Linked DNA regions of Homo sapiens: regions 2, 3, 4 and 5 are each linked to region 1. Evidence: fine-mapped expression QTL. A gene starts in region 1. Each other region holds a variant in brackets. All regions are shown on one strand. Distances are from middle to middle.

Region 1 (5,000 bases):
GACCTACACGCCTCCACCCTCCCACCCCTCTTTTCACTGCTCACAGGGACAGCTTTGTTCCCTTTCTCCCTCTTTTTCTCGCCCTGTGGCACCCTCCCCGCTCTGTGCTTGCCCCTACCGTAGTTGGAGCCACCCCAACCTGTGGCAAGTTTGCCTTCCCACTCCCTCCCTGGTCTCTTGCTTCTGCCCTGGCTCCCAACAGTCATTTCCCAACACAGCAGCTCCAGACATTTTACCCTGACCAGCAAGGCTTCATGGGACCTGCCCCACCTTGCCCTCTGACCCCCTCCTGCCCCTTCCCTGCCAGGAACACTCCAGGTGAGGCACAGCCCCAGAGCCTCTATCCTGGCTGTGCTGTCTGCCTGATACAGCTATCCCCAGGCAACCCCAGGTTTCCTCCCTCTCCTCTTCTGGTTTTTGTTTGTTTTCTGTTTGTTTGGAGACAGTGTCTTGCTCTGTCGCCCAGGCTAGAGTGCAGTGGCGCAATCACAGCTCACTGCAGCCTCAACCGCTGGGCTCAGGCGATCCTAGATCTTCCCACCTCAGCCTCCCGAGTAACTGGGACTACAGGTGCGCCCACCACGCCCAGCTAATTTTTAAATTTTTTTGTAGAAATGGGGTCTTCCTGGCCGGGTGCGGTGGCTCACGCCTGTAATCTCAGCACTTCGGAAGGCCGAGGCAAGCAGATGATCTGAGGTCAGAAGTTCAAGACCAGCCTGGCTAACATGGTGAAACCCCATCTCTACCAAAAATACAAAAAAATTAGCCAGGTGTGGTGGCTCACGCCTGTAATCCCAGCTACTCGGGAGGCCAAGGCAGGAGAATCCTTTAAACCCAGGAGGCGGAGGCTGCAGTGAGCTGAGATTATGCCACTGTACTCCAGCCTGGGCAACAGAGCGAGACTCGGTCTCAAAAAACAACAACAACAACAAAAAAGAAATGGGGTCTTCCTATGTTGCCTAGGCTTGTCTCAAACTCCTGGCCTCAAGGTGAGAAAGAAAAGTTAGGTAGTTAGATAAGAAAGCCTGCACAGACCGGGCGGGGTGGCTCACACCTGTAATCCCAGCACTTTGGGAGGCCGAGGCGGGCGGATCATGAGGGCAGGAGATGGAGACCATCCTGGCTAACACGGTGAAACCCCGTCTCTACTAAAAATACAAAAAATTAGCCGGGCGTGGTGGCAGGTGCCTGTAGTCCCAGCTACTCGGGAGGCTGAGGCAGAAGAATGGCGTGAACCCGGGAGGTGGAGCTTGCAGTGAGCCGAGATCCTGCCACTGCACTCCAGCCTGGGGGACAGAGCGAGATTCCGTGTCAGGAAAAAAAAAAAAAGTAGCCCCTGACAGCCCCCCAAAAAGAATCTCAAATATCAGTGTAAAAAAGTCCGTGACTTACAACTAAAAATTACAAAACTACAACAAAGGGATCCTCCCCTCTCAGCTTCCCAAAGTGCTGGGATTACAGGTGTGAGCTATCGCGCCCAATGGGATTTTTTTTTTTTTTTCTCGATGGAGTCTTGCTCTGTCACCCAGGCTGGAGTGCAGTGGTGCGATCTCGGCTCACTGCAACCTCCGCCTCCCGGGTTCAAGTGATTCTCCTGCCTCAGCCTCCCGAGTAACTGGGAGTACAGGCACCCACCACCAAACCTGGCTAATTTTTGTATTTTTAGTAGAGACAGGGTTTCACCATGTTGGCCAAGCTGGTCTGGAACTCCTGATCTCATGCTCTGCCTGCCTCGGCCACCCAAAGTGCTGGGATTACAGTGATGAGCCACCACTGCTAATGGGATTTTTGCTTGAATCTATCCTCACTGTATTCCCTGACCTCCCCATGTGATACTGCAGTTCTCCCATTCTCCCCATGTCACTTAGCCTCCCTGCTCTTTCTTCTTCCGTAGCTTTGTCACTTTCTAACGTTGTTATTTATTTTATTTTATTTCATTTCATTTTATTTTTGAGACAGAGTCTTGCTCTGTTGTCCAGGCTGGAGTGCAGTGGCACGATCTTGGCTCACTGAAACCTCCACCTTACAGGTTCACGAGATTCTCCTGCCTTAGCCTCCTAAGTAGCTGAGACTACAGGCACCTGCCACCTGGCCCAGCTAATTTTTTGTATTTTTAGTAGAGACGGGGTTTCACCGTGTTAGCCAGGATGGTCTTGAACTCCTGATCTCATGCTCTGCCCGCCTCAGCCTCCCAAAGTGCTGGGATTATAGGCATGAGCCACCGCGCCCGGCCACGTTATTTATTATATTTTACTAAATCCTGTCTTTATCTGAATGCAAGGGATACTTGGCCTGTTTTATTCACCATCACTGTAGGTTGCTGAGTAAATGTTGAATTAACGAATGCATCACTGAATAAGTTACTGATAGCCTGCACACAGGAAGTGTTGGGCTGGGGTTCTCCGTGAACCTGGGGAAGTGAGGAGGTTTGCAAAGACAGGAAGAGTCTGGGGTGGGGAGATACCCAGGCTAGGCTGGGGAGATACCCAGGCTAGGCTGGTGGCGCTCAGGGGAGAGGACAGAGGTGAGGGGACTTAATAAGCACCTAGAGAGATGCCTAAGACTCTCAGTTAACCGTCTAAAGTAGGGACACTTTATTGCCATTGCACAGGTAGGGAAACTGAGGCCCAAGGGAATTAACCCTGACCTGGCCAGGAGCCAATGGAGGAAACCCTGTACAGTTTGATGCACAAATATTTATAGAGTTCCCACTAGGCTCCCAGACCATCCCTAGGAGCCGAGCTGCCCCTTGACCCCATCCAGGCCTCAGTTTCCCCGCTCACACTTCGCCCCCGCCTCGTGGGATTCTAAACTGTTGCTCCAAGGTGGGAGTTGAACGGAAACTACAACTCCCGAGAGGCTGTGCGGCCAAAGACACACGAGAACTACGGAGGCGAGAGACTCGCTCAGCCAACTGCCGCTCTCGTAAGGCTCGGGCTGCCCTTGGCGCTGCCGATCCGAGACGTTGCTGCATTCAGGCATTCGCCGACGACAGACCAGCGCGGGGCGGGGTTAGGCGGAGGGGGCCTGATTCGGATTCGGCGCAGGCGCAGTCCGCGCGGGTTCTCGCGCGGAGAAGGGGTGCGAGCGGCGGCGGCGGCGGAGGCTGCCATGGACGACGAGGAGGAGACGTACCGGCTCTGGAAAATCCGCAAGACCATCATGCAGGTGAGCCGCGCCTGGTGTTGGGGGCGGGGGCGCGGGCGGCGGGTGTAGGGGCCCGAGGTGGGGTCGAGCACGGCGTCTCCTCGTACTCTCGTCGGAGCAGCAGCGATGAAGGGCCGGGCCGATACGGGAGGCCCAGAGGTCGCCGGGGATACCAGGCGCTGGACCCGACCTGAGCCGGCAGCGGGGAAGGGAGGGGGTTTCGAGACGTCTGGGTGCGGTGCTTAGGGGTGGGTGGGCGGCTTGGGCTGGTGCGGCGCGCGTGGCGGCGAGAGGAGGAGGAAGCCGCGAATGGGGACGGGGGGCGCCCCCAGACTCTGCCCTTCTCTGTGATTCAGCGTCGCTATTTGTCCTTGCGTCCTGAACCCCATGGAGTCTTCAGCATCCGAGGCTGGCAGAGTTGGTGGTTGGGAAGCAGCGGGCGAGCTGGGGCTTTCGATGGGGACGTGGAGCTCGGAACCCGTGCCTTGGGGTCTGGGGCAGATGGAGGCCACTGGGTCGAGTCCGGTTTGGAAGCCGGGCACAGGCCTGAGGACCTGCGGTTCAGGGTATTGCCTCAGCCATTGGGGCCGTTTGAGAGCTTTTGCTTTGTCTTGCTTCCCACCCTTTGCCCTTGTCCTCAGCGAAGCCCCCCGCAGCCTGATTCTTCTTTCTCCGATCCTCAAACATTGTCAGCCTGAAGTCACATCTGTTTCGGTCCCTGTCATTTTTTTTTTTTAAGAGATAGGGTTTCATTCTGTCGCCCAGGCTGCAGTGCAGTGGTGCAATCATAGCTCACTGCATCCTTGAACTGGCCTCCAGCAACCCTCCTGCCTCAGCCTCCCTAAGTACTGGGATCACGGGCGTGAGCCTCCGCGCCCCGCCTTTGTCCCTGCCTTTAGGGTAGCTCTGCAAAGTGGTTTGGAGGGCTTTGCTCCCTGCCAGGTTTCTGTGAGGCTGGGTGGACAGACGGTCTTGGTCAAGGCTGGACATCTCTGGGAGCCTCTCAGGATCATACTGGTCCCATCCTGTGGTGTGAGGCTGTGGGGGCCGGGGTGGCTGTCATGGAGCACACAGTGAGTGTTCATCCCGTTTGCTGTTCACCTCTGTCCTCTGCAGCAGCCGCAGGTCTGACTTCCGGGTCACGAGCTTTGGCCGCCTTCCTCTCTCTGCCCTGGGGTCAGCTGGTTCTTTCTCTCTGCAGCTGTGCCACGACCGTGGCTATCTGGTGACCCAGGACGAGCTTGACCAGACCCTGGAGGAGTTCAAAGCCCAATCTGGGGACAAGCCGAGTGAGGGGCGGCCGCGGCGCACGGACCTCACCGTGCTGGTGGCCCACAACGATGACCCCACCGACCAGATGTTTGTGTTCTTTCCAGGTGAGCAGCGGGTCCCGGGGGAGTTCCGGTGAAGCCACCAGAGCACCTGCCGAGGAGCCGGTCGCTAGCACCCACCCCCACTCGCCTGGTGCCCAGCATTTGTCTCTCTGCCCAGTCTGGGAGGAAAACTCCCCTCCCCTTCCTTGCTGTGGGTGATGCCGTTGATCTCTGACCCCTCTCATGCTCAGCTTCTTTCTAGTTTCCCTCTCAGTCCCCTTCTCTCTTCCTGCCAACGAGGAGAGTCACAAGGGCCTCCCCACTCACCCCCAGCCCCCCATGTCCTTTGCCCTAGTGTCCCTTGGCTCCCCCATCCTGGCCGTTGGGTGCACTTCCAGCTTCTTGGCCTGGCCCAGGAGGCCCCGTCTGGGTCAGCGCAGCCTCCTTGTGAGCTGCGGCCCCTGCCCGCCCCAGCCCATTCCTCCGCACCCCATGCCCCCTCTCCCCTGTCAGCGTCCGGTACTCGTCCCTCGAGCTTGT
Region 2 (5,796 bases), 850 kb before region 1:
GTTTCTAAGTGCACCCCCTCCTGTCTCCCAGAGGCCTCAGACAATTTTCTCTGGAAAGCGGACGGTGCTCATCTCCTGGAATCTGAGGTTTGTGAAAGAACATCTTCTTCAGATGTTGCTGTAATGTTCAAGTTCTCCAACACTGCTGAGTTCTCTTTTGCTACTTAAAAATAAACATTGATGGCCAGGCGCGGTGGCTCACGCCTGTAATCCCAGCACTTTGGGAGGCCGAGGAGGGCGGATCACGAGGTCTGGAGATCAAGACCATCCTGGCAAACACAGTGAAACCCCGTCTCTACTAAAAATACAAACAATTAGCTGGGTGTGGTGGCGGGTGCCTGTAGTCCCAGCTACTCGGGAGGCTGAGGCAGGAGAATGGTGTGAACCCGGGAGGCAGAGCTTGCAGTGAGCAGAGCTCACGCCACCACACTCCAGCCTGGGGGACAGAGCGAGACTCCGTCTCATAAATAAATATATAAATAAATATATAAATAAATAAAATAAATAAAAATAAACGTTGATTTTTGTGGCCTCGAAAGGCCAGGGCCACCTCGATGATCCTGTGGGGCTGGGGCCTACCGGTCACTCTGTGGACACTGGATGCCTCCGGCCTCTGAACTCGCTGTGGCGAAGGTCACGGGCAGCACATCCATCTGTCTGTCCCACTGGCCGTGCTCGTCACAGGGTGCAGGATCTGGCCCTGTGCCTGACAAGGCAGTGGGGACACCGGGCACATGCAGGACCCCTGGCTTTCTAGACGGCATGGGGATCAGGACAGCAGGGTCCCTGATGCCCTGCAGGCCAGAGAAGCATCGGGCCGAAGGACAGGAGAAACCAAGTCACCGGAAGAGGGGAGTGGTCGTCGCTGTGCAGAGATCCAGTCCCCAAAACCCGGCAGGGGACCCAAACAGTGCAGGTATGGATGGCCGTCTGCGGCTCCTCAAATGGTCCAACCGGGAGTGGCCCTGTGACCAGCGGTTCCACCGCTAGAAGTCCACCTGACAGAAGAATCACGCAGCCACACGGGAACCGGACACGGGTGCTCGCAGCAGCCACACGCGGATGCCATGCAAACATCTATCACAGAAATAAACACGTGGCCACCCACACGCCGGAACACGACTCAGCCACGAACAGGAGCGAGACTCGGACGCGGGCCATGGCGCGGATGCACCGAGGGTGTCACACTCAGTGAGAGACGCCAAACACACCAGGCCTCATCCCGTGTGATTCCACCCCTAGGAGGTCCCTGGAGCCCTCAGAGTCACAGAGCCAGAAAGTAGGATGGGGGTGCCAGGGGCTGGAGAGGGCACGGGAGTGAACGTTTCACGAAGACAGCGTCTCAATTTGGGAAGGTGGGAAGGTTCTGGAAAGGATGGTGTGGAAGGCTGGCTGCTGATGGGGCCAGGGCTCCCTTTGCAGGTGATGAGAACACTCTGGAATTACAGGTGGTGGCTGCACTCACAGAGGAGCCTTGACCACGGCAGGTTTGAACTGACAGGTCCACTCTGACGTGGATTTTTTCAATAAAGGTTGCCCTGAGGGCGCCAGCCTCTCCTGGCTCCTTCCCGCTCTGCCACCCGAGACAGCGAGACCCACCCTCCCTTCCTCAGCCCTCAACGTGAACACGACGAGGACAGAGGCTTCCATGAGCATTACTTCCACTGCGTGAAGAGCAAACAGGGTTTCTCTTCCTTCTGCTTTTCTCCACATGTTCTGGTCTCCAGCTTCCCTCACTGTGAGAACGCAGCACCTAACACAACACACGAGGTATGTGTGCGCGGACCACGTGTCCTCCCGAGGCCTCTGGTCACCAGCAGGCTGTCGGCAGCGGCATCTGGAGGACTCGAAAGCTATACGAGGGTATTTTGCTACATGAGGGGCTGCTGCCCTAAACCCCACCCTGCTCAAGGGTCAGCTGTACAAAAACCACTTGCGTGCACACGTTGCCGAATTTTACCAAACGTGGATTATGTTCCCAGCAAAAAAAAGTGGCTCATGCTCTAAGGACCACACCGAAATAAGGCTGGTAAGAGAACAGTGAGCTGGGTCAGTGTGACGGGATCTTTTTTTTTTTTGCGTTTTTTTTTTTTTTTTTTGAGACGGAGTCTCACTCTGTCGCCCACATGGAGTGCAATGGCGCGGTCTCAGCTCACTGTAAGCTTCGCCTCCCGGGTTCATGCCATTCTCCTCCCTCAGCCTCCCGAGTAGCTGGGAGTACAGGCGCCTGCCACCGCGCCCGGCTAATTTTTTGTCTTTTTAGTAGAGACGGGGTTTCACTGTGTTAGCCAGGATGGTCTCGATCTCCTGACCTC[G/A]TGATCCACCCGCCTCGGCCTCCCAAAGTGCTGGGATTACAGGCGTGAGCCACCACGCCCGGCCGGGATCGTTAATTTTAAGAAACGCTGTGAGCCCGGCTCTGGCCAGCACCCTGGGGATGAGAGGGGGAGGGACAGGGCCCGGGGCAGCGGCCTTCCAGAATGGCTCCCTCCGGTGCAGGATCAAGTCTGAGCCCAGGGCGGGGCCGCCCCCCGAAGCCACACCTCCTGCTCACAGGGCCAGGGTTTAACCAGCTCATCCCGGGTCCCGGCCCACGAAGCTTTCAGAGGAACCGGGGCTGTGCGCCCACAGGAAGGAGAGGCCAGTGCCCGGGCACGAGGACGAGCTGACTCATGGGGGCCCCAGGACGTCACCACACCCATTGCCCAGGGCCGCGGGCGAGGTCCAAGGGGCAGCGGAGGTCCCCGACAACTCATGGGGCAGCCACGGTCCACCCAGGGCTCAGGCAGCGAGCCCCACACAGCGCCCCTCTCCACGGCGTACAGGCCTGACCAGCGTGATGGCACAGCACGCACACACCTGTGCAGACGCCAGCGCAAACGCACACCACCCCTGCGGTCGCAAGCCCTGTCCCAGCCCACCTGCAGGCTCCAGGGCTCTGGCTGGCCTGCACGTGGCCAGGGCCCAGCTGGATCCCCCTCGGCGCACCCACCCTCAGAGGAACTCAAAGGCACACCCAGCAAGTCAGAGGCAGACACGGGCCAGTCCGTGTCCTCACGCTGGTCCCGTGCGCTGCCCTCAGGCTCCCGTCCTGGGAACTGTCCCCAGGCAGAGCCTGGGCATCAGCGCCAGCTGCCCTGCCCCAGGACCACTGGAGCAGAAGCCCGAGGGGCACAACTGCCGCGGACAGGATGAGCCCTCGCACGCCTGCCATCTTTCCTGGGGACAGAGGTCAGATGGGAAGGGGCAGAGGTCACCGCAGATTACATGAGCATCACCTGGGAAACAAGGTCCCTAAGGAGGGCGGGTCCCACCTGCAACAGGGCCTGAAGCACCACGGCCAAGGCGAGAGGACTGGCCATCAGGCCTCACAGGCAGGGACTCTGTCCACGAATCCAGACCAGGACTTGGGGTGCCTCACTCTGGAGGGTGGAAGTTTCCAGATAATTGAGGGATTACCTTTAAGCACAACTTTTTTCAAGCCTCCAAAGGCAATTACGCATCAACGAAACACCGCTGGTGACAATAAAAAAACCTCTAAGATTTTCTCTGCCTTTTAAATAGCGATAGGGCCGGGCACGGTGGCTCACGCCTGTAATCCCAGCTATGAGGGAGGCTGAAGCAGGTGGATCACCTGAGGTCAGGAGTTCAAGACCAGCTTGGCCAACATGGACAACAGAGCGAGACTCTGTCTCTAAATAAATAAATGAATAGGCCGGGCACAGTGGCTCATGCCTGTAATCCCAGCACTTTGAGAGGCCGAGGCGGGCAGATCACAAGGTCAGGAGATGGAGACCATCCTGGCTAACACAGTGAAACCCCGTCTGTACTAAAAATACAAAAATTAGCCAGGCGTGATGGCATGTACCTGTAGTCCCAGCTGCTGGAGAGGCTGAGGCAGGAGAATGGCGTGAACCCGGGAGGCGGAGCTTGCAGTGAGCCAAGATTGCGCCACTGCACTCTAGCCTGGGCAACAGAGCGAGACTCCATCTCAAAGAAAATAATAATAATAATAATAAATAAATAAATAAATAGCCGGGCGCGGTGGCTCACGCCTGTAATCCCAGCACTTTGGGAGGCCGAGGCGGGCAGATCACGAGGTCAGGAGATCGAGACCATCCTGGCTAACACGGTGAAACCCCGTCTCTACTAAAAGTACAAAAAACTAGCCAGGCGTGGTGGCGGTCGCCTGTAGTCCCAGCTACTCGGGAAGCTGAGGCAGGAGAATGGCGTGAACCCAAGAGGCGGAGCTTGCAGTGAGCTGAGATCGGGCCACTGCACTCCAGCCTGGGCAACAGTGCAAGACTCCATCTTAAAAAAAATAAATAAATAAAAAATAAATAAATAAATAAATAAACGAATAAATAGTGATGGGCCAGCCCTGGCCCGTGACCCCCGAGCCTCTTGCAGTCTTTCTTCCCGCTGCCCTCACCTGCGCCCCCTCCTCTGCGCGGCCTGAGACACAGACGTGAGGCAGCTAGCTCCCCCTGCAGGTATGGAATGGGAGTGACCTCCCCGGGATAGGCCACGGGATGCACTTCCCACCTCTCCCGGGAACATACGCGTGGCCTCCGCTCCTAGATGGAATCTGCCGTAACAAGAGTCATACCCCACGGGTCAGGCCGGCCAGACCAGAGTCTCTTGCCCCACTCCACTGGGCTGCCTGCCCCACTTGGCACCCACAGCTTCGGTCCTCACCCCATGGCCTCTCCAGGGAGGGACCCACTGCTCTACCCCAGCGTGCCCCAGAAGTTCAGCAGATGCGCATCAAGGGAGAACCAGCTTTTTTTTTTTTTTTTTTTGAGACGGAGTCTCGCTCTGTTGCCCAGGCTGGAGTGCAGTGGCGCGATCCTGGCTCACTAAAACCTCCACCTCCCGGGTTCAAGTGATTCTCCTGCCTCAGCCTCTCGAGTAGCTGGGATTATGGGCGCACGCCACCACGCCCGGCTAATTTTTGTATTTTTAGTGGAGATGGGGTTTTGCCATGTTGGCCAGACTAGTCTTGAACTCCTGACCTCAGGTGATCCGCCCACCTCGGCCTCCCAAAGTGCTGGGATGACAGGTGGGAGCCCCCGCGCCCGGCCAGAGCTGGCTGTTTTCAACATGATGTCACGCGAAACTGTCTCGGGCCTCACGGTGCAGGGAGGCCGCTGGGCCACCCAGGAGCACGCCTGAGGGTGACAGGAGGGATCCCTGGGCAGGGCTGGCAGGGGGCTGCCCCGATTCCCTGTGCAGGGGACACGTTGGGGGCTCTGAGCAAGGGGGAGATGATCCCCACACCTCAGACGCGTGCCCCGAACAGTCAGCCGCACCGGGGGCCAGGGCCGCCTGAGTGCTGCCGGGGGAGCCTGGGGCCAGCCCGGGGGTCTGAGAAGCGGCTCCCCTGTGGGCCCAGGACACAGCTCACGCTGCACCTGCAGAGGGGCCCTGGCAACCTTGCGGGCGCACAGGCTGGTGCAGGGCCCCAAGCAGCGGTGGTGGCCAGAGACTCTGGGCAGGGCGAGAAGGGGCCGCGGAGCCTGGAGGACTCAGAACCCAGCAGGGCTTCAGGACAGTGCCTGGGGGACAGCATGGGCAATGCTCCTGGGCACAGCTAGCTCACGCTGGCCACCCGGGGCATGTCCTGCTTTGTCCCATGCCCTTGCTGGTGACAAGTTGATGTGGGTGGTGAGCGGGGCAGAAAAAGGGCAGCAAGGGTGGGATGCTAGAGGTTCCTGCCCCACTACAGGAGGACCCGGCAAAGGGAGGAGGCTCACTGGGCCCCGCCCGCCAGACGGGTGCTTGCCAGGAGCCAGGCAG
Region 3 (5,000 bases), 520 kb after region 1:
GACGCCCCTCAGACCCCTCCCTGGGGTTTCCCTCTGGGGGTCTGCGCGGAGCTGGTCCCTAACTTCCGCCTGGATCAAGCCTGCCGACCGGTCTTTTGTTCTCACGGACCACAGGCCGCTGGCGGCAAGAGAGCCGTGAGAAGGGGCAGGTGGCGGCATGGCGTGGTCAGGCACTCACTTGAACTCCGTTTTCTGGCCGGGCAGCGCGTCCTCCTTCAGCACCACGCCCCCCTTCAGCCAGCGGTGCCCTGTGACCTCTGTGGCGCTGTCATTCAAGGAGCAGGTGAGGAGTATCTTGGAGCCAAGGTCTTCTACGGTAGTGAAGACTGTGCCGGCTGCAAGGCCCGGCGAGACGCGGTCAGCAGAGTGGAGGAGCACGGCCCGCGCTGCCTGCCTGACCCCCAGGAACCTGCGGCTCCTCCCCGGGAAGGACTGGTTTTCATCCCAAAAATACACCGTGGCCCTTACGCCCCGAGGACCGGAGGCCCAAGGGGAACTTCTGGCCACGCCTCCGGGAAGGGAAGAGCCCAGCGCCTGCTGAGGAGGCCCCTTCGGGAAGGCACCCCCTTCGGGAAGGCACCCTTCGCTGGCAGCTGGCGGGCCCTGGGCTAAGGCGCTGGGAACCCAGAGGCCCCGCCTGGCGATGTTCCTGCCCAGAGACACACGAGGCTGGGACCAGGGTGTGGGGACAGACAAGGCACCCACCCACGTCCCTGAGCAGGGACCAGGGCATCGAGCTCTTGTAGCAGCCCCAGCACAAACTGGAAATTCTTTTCTAAAAACGTAGCCAGCTGGGCGCGGTGGTGGCCGGGCGCGGAGGCTCACGCCTGTAATCCCAGCACTTTGGGAGGCCAAGGCGGGTGGATCTCGAGGTCGGGAGATCGAGACCATCCTGGCTAACACGGTGAAACCCCGTCTCTTCTAAAAATACAAAAAATTAGCTGGGCATGTTGGCTCATGCCTGTAATCCCAGCTACTCAGGAGGCTGAGGCAGAAGAATCGCTTGAACCCGGGAGGCGGAAGTTGCAGTGAGCCGAGATTGTGCCACCACACTCCACCTGGGAACAGCAAGACTCCATCTCCAGGAAAAAAAAAAAAAATAGCCACAGCACCCCCGGCCAAGGCTCCCGTGCCCTTCTCTAGGAGGCACTCAGGTGGCCCCACATCCCCCCAGCCCCAGGCTGACGGCACTCCAGCAGTGCTGGGAGCACCCCGGTTCTTCTGCCAATCCCCAACCAAGCAAATCTCTTGGTTCTTGGTTAGTTTACAATATTCCCGCTAGGAATTGAAATTTGAAAATCCCTTAGAACGAGATGCTGCGAAGGACACAGAAGGTTCTGAGACCTGCAAGCCTGGGCTGAGCTTGGAGGGCCCCTCAGGCTTGCAGTATGGACGCTCAGGGAGGGAGCCGGGCAGGCGCCCGGGGAAGCAGAAACGACGGAACGGATGGCACGAGGGTCGAGGGGAGGACGAGGACCCACCTGCTGGAGGGCAGAGCCCTGCCTGCCCCGAGCCAGGCCGCCCAGCGCTGGTGGTCAGGCGGCGAGCCCACCCCCTTCAGGTCCGGGCCCCTCCGTCCAGGCGGTGGGCCCAACGGGGCACAGCGGGACGGAGAGGGGAGGAGGCGTCTGGGTTCTACTGAGCAGGAGCCGGGAGGCGAGCGGCACAGGAGGGAAACTGAGGGAGGCGGGGAGGGAGGTGCCCGCCACTCACGTTCCAGGACTAGCACGACTGCCTGGGCGCGGACCCACTTGACCCTGGGCGCCCGGGTCAGGTGGTTGCGATCCGGGTCGTTGCTGGCCCGGCACTCGTAAGTGCCCGTGTCCTCCTCCACGAGCGTGTCGATGGAGATGGTGCTGGCCGCGTGCTGGTGGTAGGTGGCGTGGATGTGGACGCGGTCCAGCCGGGCGCCGTCCCAGAGCTGGGAGCAGGTGTCGTTGGGACCCTGCCCTTCAAACCACCACTGGATCTCGGGCACCGGGCTGCCCACGGCCTCGCAGTGCAGCTCCACACTGCCCCCCACCCACCTCTGCTGGGACAGCGGCGCCTGGACGAAGCCGGCTGTGGGGAGAGCACGCGTGGGGTCTTGTTAGTGCCTGGGGCACTTGGGAGGGCAGCTCCTGGGGAAGGCCTCGCCCACAGGACTCCCAGCCAGGGCTGGTGGAGAAGCCACTTCCTTTCAGCTTGTGGGAGAGTGATGGGGCCCGGCTGGAAACAGCATGGCATGGGAAAGACCGTGGGCGTCCCGTCCACTGCTACCTCACGGCAGCCACGGCGGCTTCTGAGGGCACAACTGTGGGACCACACGTGGTTTCAAAACACAAAACACATGAAACTGGGCAGAAGAGCCAGGAGTCCTGAGCCCCGAGGGCTGCCCAGAGCTCAGGTCCCAAGCGCACCGTCCTCTGACTTCTGCCCGATACCCTGACCCCAGAGACCCGGGTGAGCTGCTGAGAAAAACAAACCCCAAAGCCCAAAGGGGCAGGCGGCCTCTGTCCAGAAGCCCCTAGCCCGGCTCCGTTAGGACAGCCCGTGGGTGGAAAGCTCGTGTCCTCAGCAATCTCTGAGGGCGGCGACCCAGAGAGAGGCGGATTTGGGAAGCTGGGAGCCAGGCAGGGCCTCAGGGCCTCTCACCTCCAGCCACACGCCTCCCCTTCCTTCGAAATGCAAGGGAAGG[C/G]CCCCAGAGCTGCCAAGGAGCACAGCAGAATCCACACAGAACCTCACACTGTGCCTAGCACTCGCCTGCCAGGAACAGCCCAGCCCAAGGGGAAGCGTGGGGAGTGCCTCCTCCCGCCAGGACCTTGCAGCCCTCCCCACAGCACCTTCTGAGGTCAGACTCCCCAGGCACCGCTACAACACACACACACACACAAGGACACACGTCTGCAAACACACACAACACATACACACGTGCATATGCGTGCACACGGCTCCGAGGCTGCGTGGCAGTGCACAGGTCACGGCCCCCAAGGCCACGGGGACAGGAATGTTCACGTCTGAGCACCTCAGGTGAGCTCTGGGCAGGCGCAGTTGACAAGTTTTGGCAGCGCCATTTTCTTTCTCCTCTTCTTCTTTTTTTTTTTTTTGAGACAGAGTCTCACTCTGTTCAGCAGTGGTGTAATCTCAGCTCACCGCAACCTCTGCCTCCCGGGTTCAAGCAATTCTCCTGCCTCAGCCTCCCAAGTAGCTGGGATTACAGGTGCCTGCCACCACACTCAGCTAATATTTTGTATTTTTAGTAGAGACGGGGTTTCACCATTTTGGCCAGGCTGGTATTGAACCCCTGACCTCGTGATCCACCCTCTTGGGCCTCCCAAAGTGCTGGGATTACAGGCGTGAGCCACCGCGCCTGGCTGGCAGTGCCATTTTCACAAAGGGATCTCCTCCTGGTAACCTACATTTCTTGGGAGTTAAGATTTCCCAGACTGCAACACTGGCAGCTATGTGCAGAGCTGGGCGAGGTGAGTCAGGGCAGGAAGCACAGCCAGAGGCTGCCCAGCTGGCAAGCTCCTTCCTGCCCTGCAGCAGCCCCTCTCCTCATCCTCCAGACCTGCAGGGCTGGGCTCCACATCCTCCTCACCCAGGGGTGCTAGGAGAGGGCTGGCCCCTGACTCACCTCACCCCACCTCCAGGCAGGGCAGGGCACACAGGAAAGTGAGGAGGACCAGGTGGGGCCCGCAGCCGAGCTGCCCCCAGCCACCTTTCCAGGAGTCCCGGGCTCCCAGGCGCCATCTGCACCGGTCCCGGTGCTCCCGCTGGGTCCGCCAGCTTCTCAGCGGGCAGCATCGCTCCCAAAGGGACCAAAAGGCTTTGGATGGAACAACCCTGTGTCCCTCCGGATGCTGATGATGCTGGTGTCTGTGTATTGACGTGTCACTGGGGGTGGGGGGGCGTCCGGAAGAGAAAGCCTCCATAGAGGCTCCTCGGGGACAATGCAGAGCGCCCCCACCCCACGGACCACCCCATCTCGCCCGCCGCACCAGGAGCCTCCACCCATGAGCAGCAGGAGGAGGGACGGCGCCTGACCCTCGGCCACAGCCCCAGAAAGGTTAGAATTCGATTCTGGCCACATGAGACGTAACCCATGTTCTCAAGTAAAGTCACCTTCATCTAAAAACAGCCTCCGCCTCCTTGCCCAGGGCTCAGGGCCAGGCAGGCCGCGTGGTACTTGTACACAAGCAGCCCCGCAGGATAAGGCTGCCCGCCCCCACCCGCCCTCCTCCCCACCCACCCCAGTGCTCAGACAGCAGCCAGCGAGAACAGCTCTGGGAAGCAGCCTCGGGCACCTCCCCCACCCACCCCCACCGGCCGCAGCCAGGCACTCCCACTCCTCTCATCTGAGGCTCGGGGGTGAAGCCCTCCACCCTCGGGACCCAGCTAGCACACCCCGGCCCTCCGGTCCCCGACAAGCCCACAGGAGACGCGGACGGCCAACCTTGGGCACTCACCCCACCCGGCTGTGCCCCACCAACCCGCAGACGCCCCTGAAGCAAGTTTCAGGAGAGGCAAACACAGTCACGAATTCACAGAGCAAACAGCAGTGTCCACCCCACACGGGCCAAGGCTGTGTTGCCCAGACCTTGTGGTCTTCACGAGTCAGTCCCCAGCAAAAGTGGGGTTTCTCACCACACACACACACGCGCACACACGGCTACACCGCTGCACGGCGGCGCTGCCAGCACTGCAGACTCCACCTGCTTCCCAGGCTGCAGGCAGCTCTGGCCAGTAAGCCCCAGGCTAAGCTTTCTGCTCAGAAGAAACCCTTCTCAGTCTCCTGCACAAATGCACAAAAGGAACAAAACTGTGAACCACCCTACCCAGCAGGGAGAGACCAAAGGTCTTTCACCCACTTGGCTGTCCAAATTAGCTCAATGTGGGAACCTCGTGCTGTGCTTGAAACCCAGTCAGGCCTGGCTGGGTTTCCACAGGGCTGGCGGGGGCGGCTTATCTTCCGCGCTCACCTCACCCATGGGCTCCTATCTGTGTCTCCCCAGAGAGCT
Region 4 (5,796 bases), 140 kb after region 1:
CCGCCTCGGCCTCCCAAAGTGCTGGGATTACAGGCGTGAGCCACTAGAAATATGGAATTCTAATCCTGTGGGACCACCGTCCCATCTGCGGTCTGAGGTTGACCAAAGTGTCAACACGTGATTGTATGTCAGTAAGTTCCCCCGTTTCCAAATGAGGTCCTGTCACAGGTACTGGGAATCCAGTGCTTGAACCTGTCCTCTTCTTTTCTTTTTCTTTCTTCTTTTTTTTTTTTTTTTTTGAGATGGAGTCTCGCTCTGTCGCCCAGGCTGGAGTGCAGTGGCGCGATCTTGGCCCACTGCAAGCTCCACCTCCCGGGTTCACGCCATTCTCCTGCCTCAGCCTCTTGGAGTAGCTGGGACTACAGGCGCCCGCCACCACGCCCGGCTAATTTTTTTGTATTTTTAGTAGAGACGGAGTTTCACCATTTGGCCAGGATGGTCTCCTGACCTCGTGATCCGACTGCCTCAGTCTCCTAAAGTGCTGGGATTATGGGCATGAGCCACTGCGCCCAGCCTATTTTTTTTTTTAATTTTAATTTTTATTATTATTATTTTTAGATGGAGTCTCGCTCTGTCGCCCAGGCTGGAGTGCAATGGCGCAATCTCAGCTCGCTGCAACCTCTGTCTCCGGGGCTCAAGCAATTCTCCCCCCTCAGCCTCCTGAGTAGCTGGGATTACAGGCACCTGCCACTATGCCCAGCTAATTTTTGTATTTTTTGGGTAGAGACAGGGTTTCACTATTTGGCGAGGCTGGTCTTGAACTCCTGACCTCAAGTGATCCGCCTGCCACAGCCTCCCAAAGTCTTTTTTTTGTTTGTTTTTGGAGACAGGGTCTCACTCTGTTGCCCAGCCTGGAGTGCAGTGGCGCAATCATAGCTCACTGCAGCCTCAACCTCCTGGGCTCAAGGGATTCTCCTGCCTCAGCTGCCCAAGTGGCTGGGACCACAGGCACTCGCCATCACACCCGGCTAAGTTTTTACATTTTCTTTTGTAGAGATGGGTCTTTCTATGTTGCCCTGGCTGGTCTCGACCTCCTGGGCTCCCTCGATCCTCACGTGTTGCCTTCTCAAAGTGCTGGGGTCACAGGCGGGAGCCACCGCCCTCCACCTTTTCTTTGGGGGACACAATTTACCCTAGGACAGTGCCTGCCTGAGTTCACACAGCAAATCGCTGCAAAAATTCACCAGCATGCCTCCCGGGGCTGTCCTGAGGGTCGGACGGGAGCGCATTTGTTCCGAGAACTGGCTCTGCTTTGCAGGTGAGGAAACTGAGACACAGCGGCGAGTGCGGGACCAGAGCCTGGGGGCTGCTGGGGACTTGGCCCAGAGCCCCGCCCTGCTTCCCATCCCGGTCCTCCTGTCTCCTGCTGGCTTCCCCGCACCTGGAGCCTGGAGTCTCAGCCTCCAGCTATGAAATGAGCCACCGACCGCCTCTGCCTGCCAGGGTGGTGGCTGGGGAGGAAGAAGATCACCAGGCCCCGGAACGTCTTCCAGAGGGGAAAGAGGCTCCGTCTGGGGTACAAGGAGCCAGGAGGTCCCCCAGCGCCCCCCCCCACCCACAGGTTCGGGCGGGCAGGGTGGGGGAAAGCCGGCAGGGATAATTAGAAAGCGGAGTTCAGGCGGGGGCCAATTTGCCGAGGAGGAGCTGCGACAAATACCAGGCTGCCAATTAAGCTCGGGGGAATGTGGCTGGCTGGGCAGTGGGGAGCCTTGAAACCACCAATTAGGCCTCAGCTGGGATGATCGGTCATTAGGGCCCAGAAGGAGACCCACGCCCAGCCCCTGCTGCTGCGGGGACATCCCAGGTGCTGGGGAGGCCGGCCAAAGGCCCCATCACCCTGCAGCCGTCCTGCCCCTCTCTGGGCCTCAGTTTCCCCGTCTGTGTATTGGAGGCCCAGTGAGGCCTTCCGGGAAGGGGCTGGGGGGGCAGCCAGGAGTCCTGACCTCTGCCCTGGGTGGTCGAGGCTGCCCGAGGTCCAGCTGCCTGGTCTTTGTCTCCGCCCCAACCCGGCCAGCGCCAGACTGGCCAGCCTGCATTCCTGCGCTGATTTATGGTGGCCGGGGAGGCCCTTTCCCCTTCAGCTGCCTGAGGGGTGTGGGGCCCTCAGGTAGACCCGGCTGGCCGGGCCGGTGGGTCCCATGAGCACAGGCACGCACACATGGCCACACGCCCGGCCTCGTCCTCTGACCCCGGCCCGGCTGCCGCCCCCTCCCCTCCACGTTCTTCCTCCGAGACCCCGTCCATCACCGAGTCACGGATCTAGGAGTGTATCTGGGGTTTAGTCTGTTTTGTTCCCAGAGTCTGGAATCAGCCGAGCACACAGCAGTTGCCTAATAAATGCTCGTTACTTGAACCTTGATTTTCTCAGCTGCAAAAGTGAGCCGGGCAGGGCGGAGAGGGGGACAGGGCGGAGAGGGGGACAGGACGAGCTTGCCAGG[G/C]AAACGCCTGAGGCAGCAGGTACTGGAATGGGGAGGACTTCACCGCTGGGGCTGTCCTGGGGTGAACGCCATCCCCCACCCAAATTCACATCGGCCCAGAACCTCAGAACGAGACGTTATTTGGAAAAAGGGCCTTTGCAGACGTGATCAAATTGAGAAAAAGTCACAGTGAAGGCCGGTGGGCACTGGAGACGGTCGCACAGAGACAGAGGCCGGCCACATGTCAAGGGACTCCTGGAGCCCCCAGGAGCTGGGAGAGGCGGAAGGCTCCTCCTGCAGCCCCTGGAGGGAGCGCAGCCCTGCGGACGCCTCGATTTTGGACTCTGGGCTCCAGGACGGAGGGAGAACAGGTTTCGTTTGTTTTACGCCCGCGGTTTGAGGTCCTTCGTTACGCAGCCCCCCGGCTAAGAACCGCACGTAGAGGCCAGCACACCTTGGGCCCTTCCAGGGCGAGCGGAAGGTCCTCTCCTCTGAGATTCTGACCCGGTATTACGGGGTCTACCCTGCCTGGACCCCCCCTTCCCTGGCACAGCCCCTACAAGAAACCTCACCGCACCTCCTGCCTCAGTTTCCCCATCTCTCAAATAGAGTGTGTGAGAAAACACAGCAGCTTTACCCCAAGCACCTGGCGCCCCAGCTACCCTCACATCCCGGATGGGGAAACCGAGGCGCCAGGCAGCAATCAGCTGCCCCATGTACAGCCAGCCAAGGTTGGGGTTGGAGAGGGGAGCCATTAACTCCCAGGCCAAATGGTGGGCGAACTGGGCCGGTGGCGAGGCACGGTCAGACCCCTGTGGGGCCGGGGCACTGATGCGTGGCAGTAAAGGGAGGACCTGCGGGGGCCCCAGCTGCTGGCGGGGGAGGCGGCTCTAATGGCCGTTGCTGTGGGCAGCCAGCAACAAAGCCAGCAGTAAAGGCCGCCTGGGCTTTATGGGTCTCTGGCCCCCGGTTCCGCTCCCCTGTGGGGGGCGCCCCGCCCTGGCCAGCTGGCCGAGGCCCCAGGGATGGGAAAGCAGGGGACGGTGTCCAGGCTGCCCATGGCGGTGTCCAGGCCCCCCTTGTGGGCCAGATCCCGGGTTGAACTGCTGGGCCACAGCACACCCCATGGCAAACCCAGGCCTTGGTTCTCACCTGGGTTCTGTGGCCGAAACCCTGCCCCTCTGAAACGTCAACCAGAAAGCTCTGAAATCAGCCGCCCACCACACACCCACAGGAGCCCTAAACCCAGGCTGGAGATTGGGCAAAATCTCCGGAAACTCCCTCCCCAGGGGCTGAGGGCCGAGATAAGCGGCCCGCACTCCCCTCCACGCCGCCTGACCTCCCTGGGGCCTGCTCTGATCACGGGAGGGGTCGGGTGTGAAGTTCTGAAGGTGCCCCTCCGCTGAGACCCCCACCGCCCCCCATCAGCCCCGAGCGGCCGCCTTCGCCCCGGCTGTTCCTCCCGTCTGCGAGGCCTTCTCAGCCCCTTCCCTTCGTCTGGGTCCCCTGTGGTCATTCCCTCCCTGGAGGGGAGCCCCCCGTCCTCCCAGGACCGATATCACCTCCGCAGATGCTCTGCTCCCACCCACCTTTACCGACCACCGGCCTCACGGGGTTTCTGGCTCACGGCCCCCCTTGGACCCCCAGCCCTCGCATGGCCCCAGCTGTGTGGATTCACGCATTTGTCTCTCGTCTGTCTGCCCTGGAACATGCGGAATTCTTATCTTGTTGCCAGCATCCAAAATCGGGCACACAGCAGTTGCCTAATAAATGCATGTTAAATGAACTTGCTTTCTCAGTGCGATGCCAAGAAAATGCGGGGCCACAGGGCAGGCCTGGGGGTCTTTCCCTGAGGGGGTCCCCTCCCCTCTGTCCACTTCCTGCTGTGGGGGATGGAAGGTGTGGACCCCTAATTACCAAGGCTGGGCCCATCGTCTCCCCTTCCCAGCACCACCTGCTTCGGAGAAGGGGAAACCGAGGCACAGAGCGCGTGGAGCCAAGCCACCTCCAGGTCCCCCGGCCGCCCCTCCTGCCAGACCCTTCCCCACTCAGCAGTTGGGTGGGGTGGGGGGTTTTTCACAGACATCTGAGCATGACCCTCCCTCGGCCACAGCCTCCCAGGGCCCCCCAGCACCCTCCTGGCCCCTCCCTGCCCTCTCCTGCTCCCTCCGCCCCGGCCTTGAGCTGCCCTATTTAGGGACAGGGTCTCGCTCTGTCACTCAGGCTGGAGTGCAGTGGTGAGACCCTAGCTCACTGCAGCCTCCACCTCCCACCTCGGTCTCCTGAGCCAATGAGACCACAGGCAGGCACCACCACGCTCGGCTAATTTTTGTATTTCTATAGAGACAAGGTCTTGCTATATTGCTCAGGCTGGTCTCAAACTCCTGGCCTTAAGTGATCCTCCTGCCTCAGCCTCCCACAGCGCTGGGATTACAGGCAGGAGCCCCCAGACCCAGCCTTGGCGTCTTTCTATGTAAAACGCACAGGCCCCCACCCCAGGGCCTCCGCGGCGCTGTTCCTTCTGCCTGGAATGCAGCTCCCGGGTCCCCGCTCGGCTCCTGCCTTCCCGCCCAAACGTCGCCTTCTGACAGAGCCCCCTCCACAGCCCCCCTCAGCCTCTGACCCCTTCATTCCTCTTTGGTTTTCTTCCCAGAAGGTTGCACGCCCGAGCCCCGTTACACGGATCTGCAAGACACACTCCGTGGCTCTGGGGATGGAGGGAAGACGCTGTGGCCCCCGACCCTGACACTCCCCCGGCTCTGCACGGGGGGGGGTGTGGGAGGCCTGGGGGGGTGGGAGGTGCCGCCCCCACCTGATGAGGACCGGGCCCCTCTGGAGGGGGCACCTGTGAGGAGAGAGGGTGGCGGGGCTCGGGTGGTGGCGCCGGTGGGGGAGGGGAGGAAAAAGTGAGATAACCGCCACCCCCCAGCCCTGGAAGGGCAAACAGGAAATTCTTGTTTGTGGCGAAACGTTGATGATTTTCTCCACCCCACCTCCCAGAGAAACGACAGCTCCGAGGGGGTCAGTGGAGTCTGCTGGCGGACAGGGTGCAAGATAAGTCCCAGGGCCACCTGGGAGTGGGGAGGGGGTTCCCCGGCTGCCCGGACCACCCCTAGAACCAGGGAGTTCAGCCCCGGCTCAGGACTCCCCTCCCCAGCCCACCGGCTCTGGGAGGTGGGAGGAAGGTCAGAAAAAGACCCCAGAGGTTTGCAGAAAATCCAAGGAAAGGGTTGGCCAGGACAGAAGAGGGTGGCCGGGGCCAGCACATGCGGCCCCTCCCCCAGCAGTGCCCAAGGTCACAGGTGGGCAGTGCCCAAGGTCACAGGGGGGCTATGGTTTCCCCACTCAGTCCCCAGGCAGGCCCCACCTGGGCACTCCC
Region 5 (5,796 bases), 29 kb after region 1:
CTGGGTGAGCCAGGGGTCAGGGCCTCACTAGAGACTTAGTTTCGTCATCTGTAAAATGGGCGGCTGCTGGGAGCAGATCAGAGCGCCTGGCATGACCCTGGCACTGTGGTTTCTGGGAGGAGCCGGGGGCTGAAGGCAGCACATGAGGTGCCCGCCTGGGCTGCCAGGGACAAACAGGAAGCAGATGAAAATAACTCGGCAGGAAGCAGGGCTGTCAGCGGCCGCGTGGAGGAGAAAACGGAACTGCCGGCCTGCAGGCCGCTGGGTCCCAGCACCTCCGCCGCCTGATGACCCCATCCTGCCCCTCGCCATGCCTCCTGAATCTCTCTCCACCCAGACCTCAGCCAACCCCCAGTTTGCTTCATTCCAAGACACAGATCTGCCCCCATCTGTCCTGTGCTCTAACACCTTCTATGGCTCCCCATTGCCCTTCTGCCTGGCGTTGTCATGCCTTCATCCTACACCAGCGGCACCCCACACCTTGGCCCCCAAATGCATTCTCTGTTTCCGTGTTTCTGAGCCTGTGCATGGGACATTTCCTCTGCCTTTCCCTCCTAATTGCCATCAGATCCTTTAAAAAAAATAAAGTGGGCACCCTCTTGAGCCAGTGTACGCTCAGGGACTCCCCCACCAAACTCCTACACATCCCTCAGAGCCTTAGCTGTCATGGCCTCTTCCACACAGCCCTCCCTGCCATCTGAGCCTCCCTCCCTTCTGAGCCTCCCCAAGTCCCTCCCTCCATCCTCCCTTGGGTCTGGCTCTGTCTTCCACCCAGGCCTCGGTGTCCCCGTGGCTCTCACCGTCACGCAACACACACTCCTTAAGTTTCTCAAGGCCCTCAGCGAAGCGGGCCACGTCCGCCAGCAGATGGGAGATGTCCTCGACGACGTCCGGGCCGGCACCCTCGGTGGGCAGCTCGCCCGGGCTGGCGGCTGTCAGTGGGCTCCGGTGGCTCCGGCCCAGTGTCCAGGAGGCAGCACCCGACAGGGGGAAGCCAGCCGCGCTGGCGTGGCGGCTCAGGCTGGTGGGCCGCTTGAGGGTCCCTGTGGCCTTGACGCCGGAGGACCCAGCGGGCGGCTCCAGGCTTGGTCCGGGGAACACCGCGTCAGCCCCATCCTTCCTGGGCAGCTCCTTGGGCAGGTCCGAGGGGAGCTCGTTAAAGGGATTTTCCGGCCTGGACACGGCCTCAGTTTCCCCAGAAATGAAGTGGGGCTGTGGAGGGCCACCATCACCCTGACCCCACAGGGGTCAAAGGCCAGAGGTCACAGGGCCGAGATTTGGTAGTGTACCCCCCCACCTGTTACCCAACATCCTCTTCCCTAGAGCTTTCACAAACAACGGTCCTTGCCCAAACCACAGCCGGGGCGGGGCCTGCGGGGAGGCGCGGGAGGGGGGTCCCCACTTCCTGGTGGGGGTGGGGAGGGTCCTCAGCCCTTCAAGCCCCCCTCAGGCTCCTACAACGCAGGTGCTTTAAGTGAACACACTTCTGACTCTGTCTGTCCCCTAAAGGTCCATGGAACCCCAGAGCCTATGGGCAGCCCCAGGCCTTGTAGACATCCCGGACCCCCAAGCTCTGTAGACCCCCCCCCCAGCTTTGTAGACACCCCAGGCCTGGGGACACTCCCCAACCTCTGAACCTGGTGGATCCCATTAGAGGATCTGCTGCCCGGTCAACCTTCAGCCCAATGGCCAGGCCACAGCCCTCCCATCTCAACGGCCCCTAGAGCCCCCAGATTGCCTAAGCCCCCAACCTGCAGCGGCCCAAACACAACATCGTCCCAACCCGGCACCCTCCCTTCCTGCTCCCTGGGCCCCGCGGCCAGCCCTGGATGGAGTGGAGGGAGGCGGCCACCACTCCCAGGGTCCCTACCGTGAGCTGAATGCCGGGGTCCCGGCCTCTCTGCTGTGGCCCCTGCCGTCCCGCCCGGTAGGGGCTGTAGCTGGCACGAGCCCCCAGCCGCCGCCCCAGCATGAGCCCCGAGCACAGGGCGGGTCCCTGTCCCCCTGCGGCCCGGCGTCAGCTCCGGGTCTCACCCGGGCTCCACTCACCCCCGAGGGCTGCGGGCTGGGGCTTCCCGCGCGGTTCTTTTTCGAGATGGAAGGGGTTTTCATGAGCTCTCGTTTCTTCCTGGAGAACATGATGGGGCCCCGGCCGGGAGCCCGAGGGGGCGGGCTGGGGGTCTCAGCGCTGCAGCTCCCGGCGCTGGCCGCTTCGGGACCACATTGTCGCCGGCCACCCCCTCCCCAGCTGTCAGGCCCACGTGACAGGCCCGGCCGTCACTGGCGGGCCCTCCCCCCAACAGGAAAAGGCTTCGGGGAGGCGGCGACGCGGCCTCGCCCCCGACCCTTCCCGGCCTCAGCCTGCGGCTCTGCGGAGTGGGCGCGAAGGTGAGGTCGCAGGCCCCGCCCCCAGCCCCGGGCCGCGCCCCCCGCTTCCGCCTTCGGGAGCTCGGAGCCGCGCCGCTCGCGGGGTGGGACCGGGAGCCCCTGCCTGACGCTGGCGGGCACGGGGCGGCCGACTGCAGGGCGCTGACTCTCACTCCCGGACGCGAGTGGGCGTGCACAGACACGTGCACGATGACACGCAGAGACCCGGACCTCCACACG[C/G]GCTCAGACGCCACCAAGCCCCTGGAGCCTCGCCCTCAGACCCCAGACACACGCACAGGCCGAAGCTGCGCCCCTGCAGCCCCCTTTTCCCTGAAGGCAAGCCCGCTCCACCGCCTCTCCTGCAGACCCTAGGGTGTGGCCGGGCCCCAGCAGGGCCGGGCAGAGTAGGGTCCCCCCCATCACCCGCCCTGCAGCCCCGTGAAGTGGGTCAGGTCGAGGACAGGTGGGGAAACTGAGGCCCAGAACCGAAACCCTGGGGGCAAAGACGTCCAGGAAGTCAGAACAATCCAGGTTACCGGGCCCTGTCCGTCTGGGTCCCCACGTCCGTCTGGGTCCCCACGTCCACCTGGTCCTGGGCTGCCTGCACAGGGGTCCCCAAAGTGTGGTGTGGACCCCACCATCGGCAGAATATGCTGAGGACACCTGGTTACCTCTCAGCAGCCCTGTGGGCCATATCATGTTGCCCCAGACCTGCCCTTAGCTAAGGTCCCCAGCCCCGCCTCCCAAGCTGCATTCCAGTGACTCTGGACCACCGGACGTGCTGGGCAGCAGGACGCAGGCACCCGTTGCTGATAACAGCCTGAGGCGGCATTGGCCAAGAGCTGGGGCATCTGCAGGCATACAGATCCCAGCCTCCTACCTTCCCCCAACCCCCACCCCGCAGTGTGAACTCTCTCCCCCCTCCCCAAGTCTCCCTGCTGTCCCCTTCCAGAACCCCACCCCCAATCCCAAAACCCCAACCTCTTTCCTTTCCCAAACCCCATTCCCACCTACCTCGGGTGGGAGGGGCAGATCTCTGGGGCACAGGACATGAAGGCCACAGCCCCTTGCTCCAAGTCTGGCTCTCCAGGCCCAGGTCCAAGTGCAAACCCAGCCCAGCAGACCCTTGAGAACTCTTTGCCCCCGACTCATGGCGCTGAGGGCTGGGGTCAGAGGGTGAGGGTCAGCTGGATGTCGGATGGGCTTCTGGCCCGGCCCTGGCCTGTGCTCCGGGACACCGGGCTCCTGTAAGCTTCCCAGGACATTCCTGAGTCCTGACCTCATCCCCACTTTATGGCCAGGCACTTACAGGTACCGCCCTTAGGCGCCAGCCCCACATAGGCACGCAGGGACGTGGGGACAGGGACGGTGTGACCAGGCCCTTATGAGGCCCGCACTCACATCCCCAACTCCTGGGCTGGCCACAGAGGCATTTACAGCTGGGATCCGGTCAGCTGTAGGCACGCTCACACCTGTGTCCTATGAATCGCCACTTGGCCCGTATGTGCACACTCAGCTTGCAAGGGGCCAGCCATATCCAGACGCATGTGCAGGCAGCTGTGTGGACATGTGTGCAGCCTGGCTCAAGGACACACATGCACACGGTTTCACCACCACGGCTTCTCTCCAGCCTTCTCTTTATTTTCTCCAGGGCACCAGCCCCTCTGCCAGCCTGAGTCCAGGGCTCCTAGGCACTCTACCTTGCCCTTGCCATTCCCAGGGCCTCCCCGCGGCCCCGCAGGGGAGGGAGGCTCAGAGCACAGTCTCGGCAGTGCTAGGGTCATCGAGGAACTGGCTGACGCGTTTGGGGTGCTGCAGGCCTGGCGCGGGGTCCACTCCCACTCCTGCCTCCTTCTGCTCTTCGGTGTCCTCGTCCTTCCCCTGGTCCTTGGAGAAGTACAAGAATACCTAGCGGTGGGCAGCCCAGAGGGGACAAGAGGGACGGTCAGCCCACGGGCCTGGCCCCCAGCCTGCCTCCCCCAGCCCGACCCCGGCGCCGTGATCACCTCCTCCAGCATCGTCTGGCTCACGGAAAAGTCCTCCACGCCGTGCTCTGCGCCGTGCACCGCCAGCTCTCCAAAGACGCGCGCCAGGGCGCAGCGCCCTCCCGGCGGCAGCTGGAAGCGCAGGCGGCCTCCATGTGCCTCGCGCAGCTCCGCCCCAGGGAACTCGGCCGCCACGAAGGCCGCTGCCGGCTGGGACCTTGCGGCGGGCACCCGCAGGGTCAGTGTGTGACCCGCCGCGAATCTGCAGTGAGTGGGGCCAGGGCTACCGGATCGGGCCTTTCCCAGGTCCCACCTCAGCTCACCCTCCAGCCCCTAATACTCTCTGGCCCCGCCCCATACTTGTACTACCCTAGCGATCAAGTGGTCCTCCCGTCTCAGTCCCCCGCCACCCCCCGCCCGCGTAGCTGAGACCACAGGCACACACCACCATGTCCAGCTAATTTTTAAATTTTTTATAGAGATGGGGTCTCCCTAGGTTGCCCAGGTTGCTCTCGAAGCTATCACCCCACTTGACTCCTTTTTCGGACACTCCTCTTTCGCCCTTGCACTCTACCCCCGCCCACACAATAAATACCCCCGCCCCACTTTCCTATGGCCCCGCCCACTAACCAGGCCCTCCCCTAACTCCACCCATCAATCCACCCTCACCTCTCCAGGCTGCACCTACTCCAACGCACACCTGATTGTGTCTTCTAAATCCACCCAGAGCCCCCGGCTCACGCCTCCTGGTCCTGCGCCCCCAGCACACCCCAGCCTGTCTCGCCCCCTCAGTCACCCCTGCAGGACAATCTAAAGCCTTGGCCATCTCTCCAGTTGGAGCCAAACTTTCCTCACCCGGCTCTACGTCTGGCCTCTCCCCTGAGCCTACCTACGTGCCCACCCTCACCCCACACCTGCCTGGAGGCCGCGCCGGCTCACCTGCCCTTGAGATGTTGCGGGCTGCCCAGGCAGCGGAACCGCCCATTCACCATGATGGCCAGGCGCGAGCAGAGCGCTTCACACTCCTCCATGCTGTCGGGACCCGGCACCACGAGCTCCGTGAGGCCGGGGCCACCTGTGCCTGGCGCCACACTGCCTGCTTCCCCCGGCCTGGGCCACCCTTCTGGTGTGGACATCTCCCCACTCTTCCCCAGACCGTTCTGATCCCGGCGCCGCGTCCCACCTCTGTGTGTCCTTACACCCCGGGGCCTGGCGCCCTCGCCCCACTAGGGCCAGGACCCCCCATCCCCTGTGGCCTTGTGCTTTGGGGCTCTCTCTCCAGGCCTGGATCACCTTAACCACAGCCCAGGGCATCAGAGCCCGGCCCACCTATGGGAGGTGAGCATCACTGAACGGCCCTCCCGCACCACGGCCAAAAGGCTGTTCCAAAGGAAGCGCCGCGCGCTGGGGTCCATGCCTGTGGTCGGCTCGTCCTGGGGAGCAC

The links.
Region 2: its variant is fine-mapped to the expression of POLR2E in aorta (GTEx, PIP 0.99).
Region 3: its variant is fine-mapped to the expression of POLR2E in sigmoid colon (GTEx, PIP 0.98).
Region 4: its variant is fine-mapped to the expression of POLR2E in pancreas (GTEx, PIP 0.98).
Region 5: its variant is fine-mapped to the expression of POLR2E in whole blood (TOPMed, PIP 0.97).

The regions. Positions count from the first base shown.
Region 1 is chr19:1,093,427-1,098,426 of GRCh38, reverse strand. POLR2E (RNA polymerase II, I and III subunit E) reads left to right here and starts at 3,052. Exons shown (of 8, transcript NM_002695.5): 1 at 3,052-3,168; 2 at 4,349-4,523. The coding sequence starts at 3,112. RefSeq lists enhancers at 3,019-3,108, 3,866-4,401.
Region 2 is chr19:1,944,825-1,950,620 of GRCh38, reverse strand. The region is part of intron 1 of CSNK1G2 (casein kinase 1 gamma 2); the gene reads right to left. Among named protein-coding and RNA genes, the nearest start is that of CSNK1G2, 6.6 kb to the right of the region's middle. RefSeq lists an enhancer at 2,902-3,622. The variant G/A (reference allele first, on the strand shown) is at 2,316.
Region 3 is chr19:574,835-579,834 of GRCh38, reverse strand. It overlaps BSG (basigin (Ok blood group)), which reads right to left. Exons shown (of 9, transcript NM_001728.4): 2 at 1,714-2,061; 3 at 179-335. Among named protein-coding and RNA genes, the nearest start is that of BSG, 4.7 kb to the right of the region's middle. The variant C/G (reference allele first, on the strand shown) is at 2,678.
Region 4 is chr19:952,871-958,666 of GRCh38, reverse strand. The region is part of intron 3 of ARID3A (AT-rich interaction domain 3A); the gene reads right to left. Among named protein-coding and RNA genes, the nearest start is that of WDR18, 29 kb to the left of the region's middle. RefSeq lists silencers at 821-1,013, 3,244-3,503, 4,709-4,917 and enhancers at 1,389-2,090, 2,793-3,494, 4,899-5,600, 5,601-5,796. The variant G/C (reference allele first, on the strand shown) is at 2,439.
Region 5 is chr19:1,063,749-1,069,544 of GRCh38, reverse strand. ABCA7 (ATP binding cassette subfamily A member 7) reads right to left here. Exons shown (of 47, transcript NM_019112.4): 44 at 5,682-5,785; 45 at 5,292-5,384; 46 at 4,374-4,614; 47 at 3,973-4,275. The coding sequence ends at 4,120. It overlaps ARHGAP45 (Rho GTPase activating protein 45), which reads right to left and starts at 2,378. Exons shown (of 23, transcript NM_012292.5): 1 at 2,050-2,378; 2 at 801-1,131. The coding sequence starts at 2,139. RefSeq lists enhancers at 79-238, 2,429-2,935, 5,522-5,796 and silencers at 629-728, 1,259-1,498, 1,809-2,568, 4,409-4,458. The variant C/G (reference allele first, on the strand shown) is at 2,608.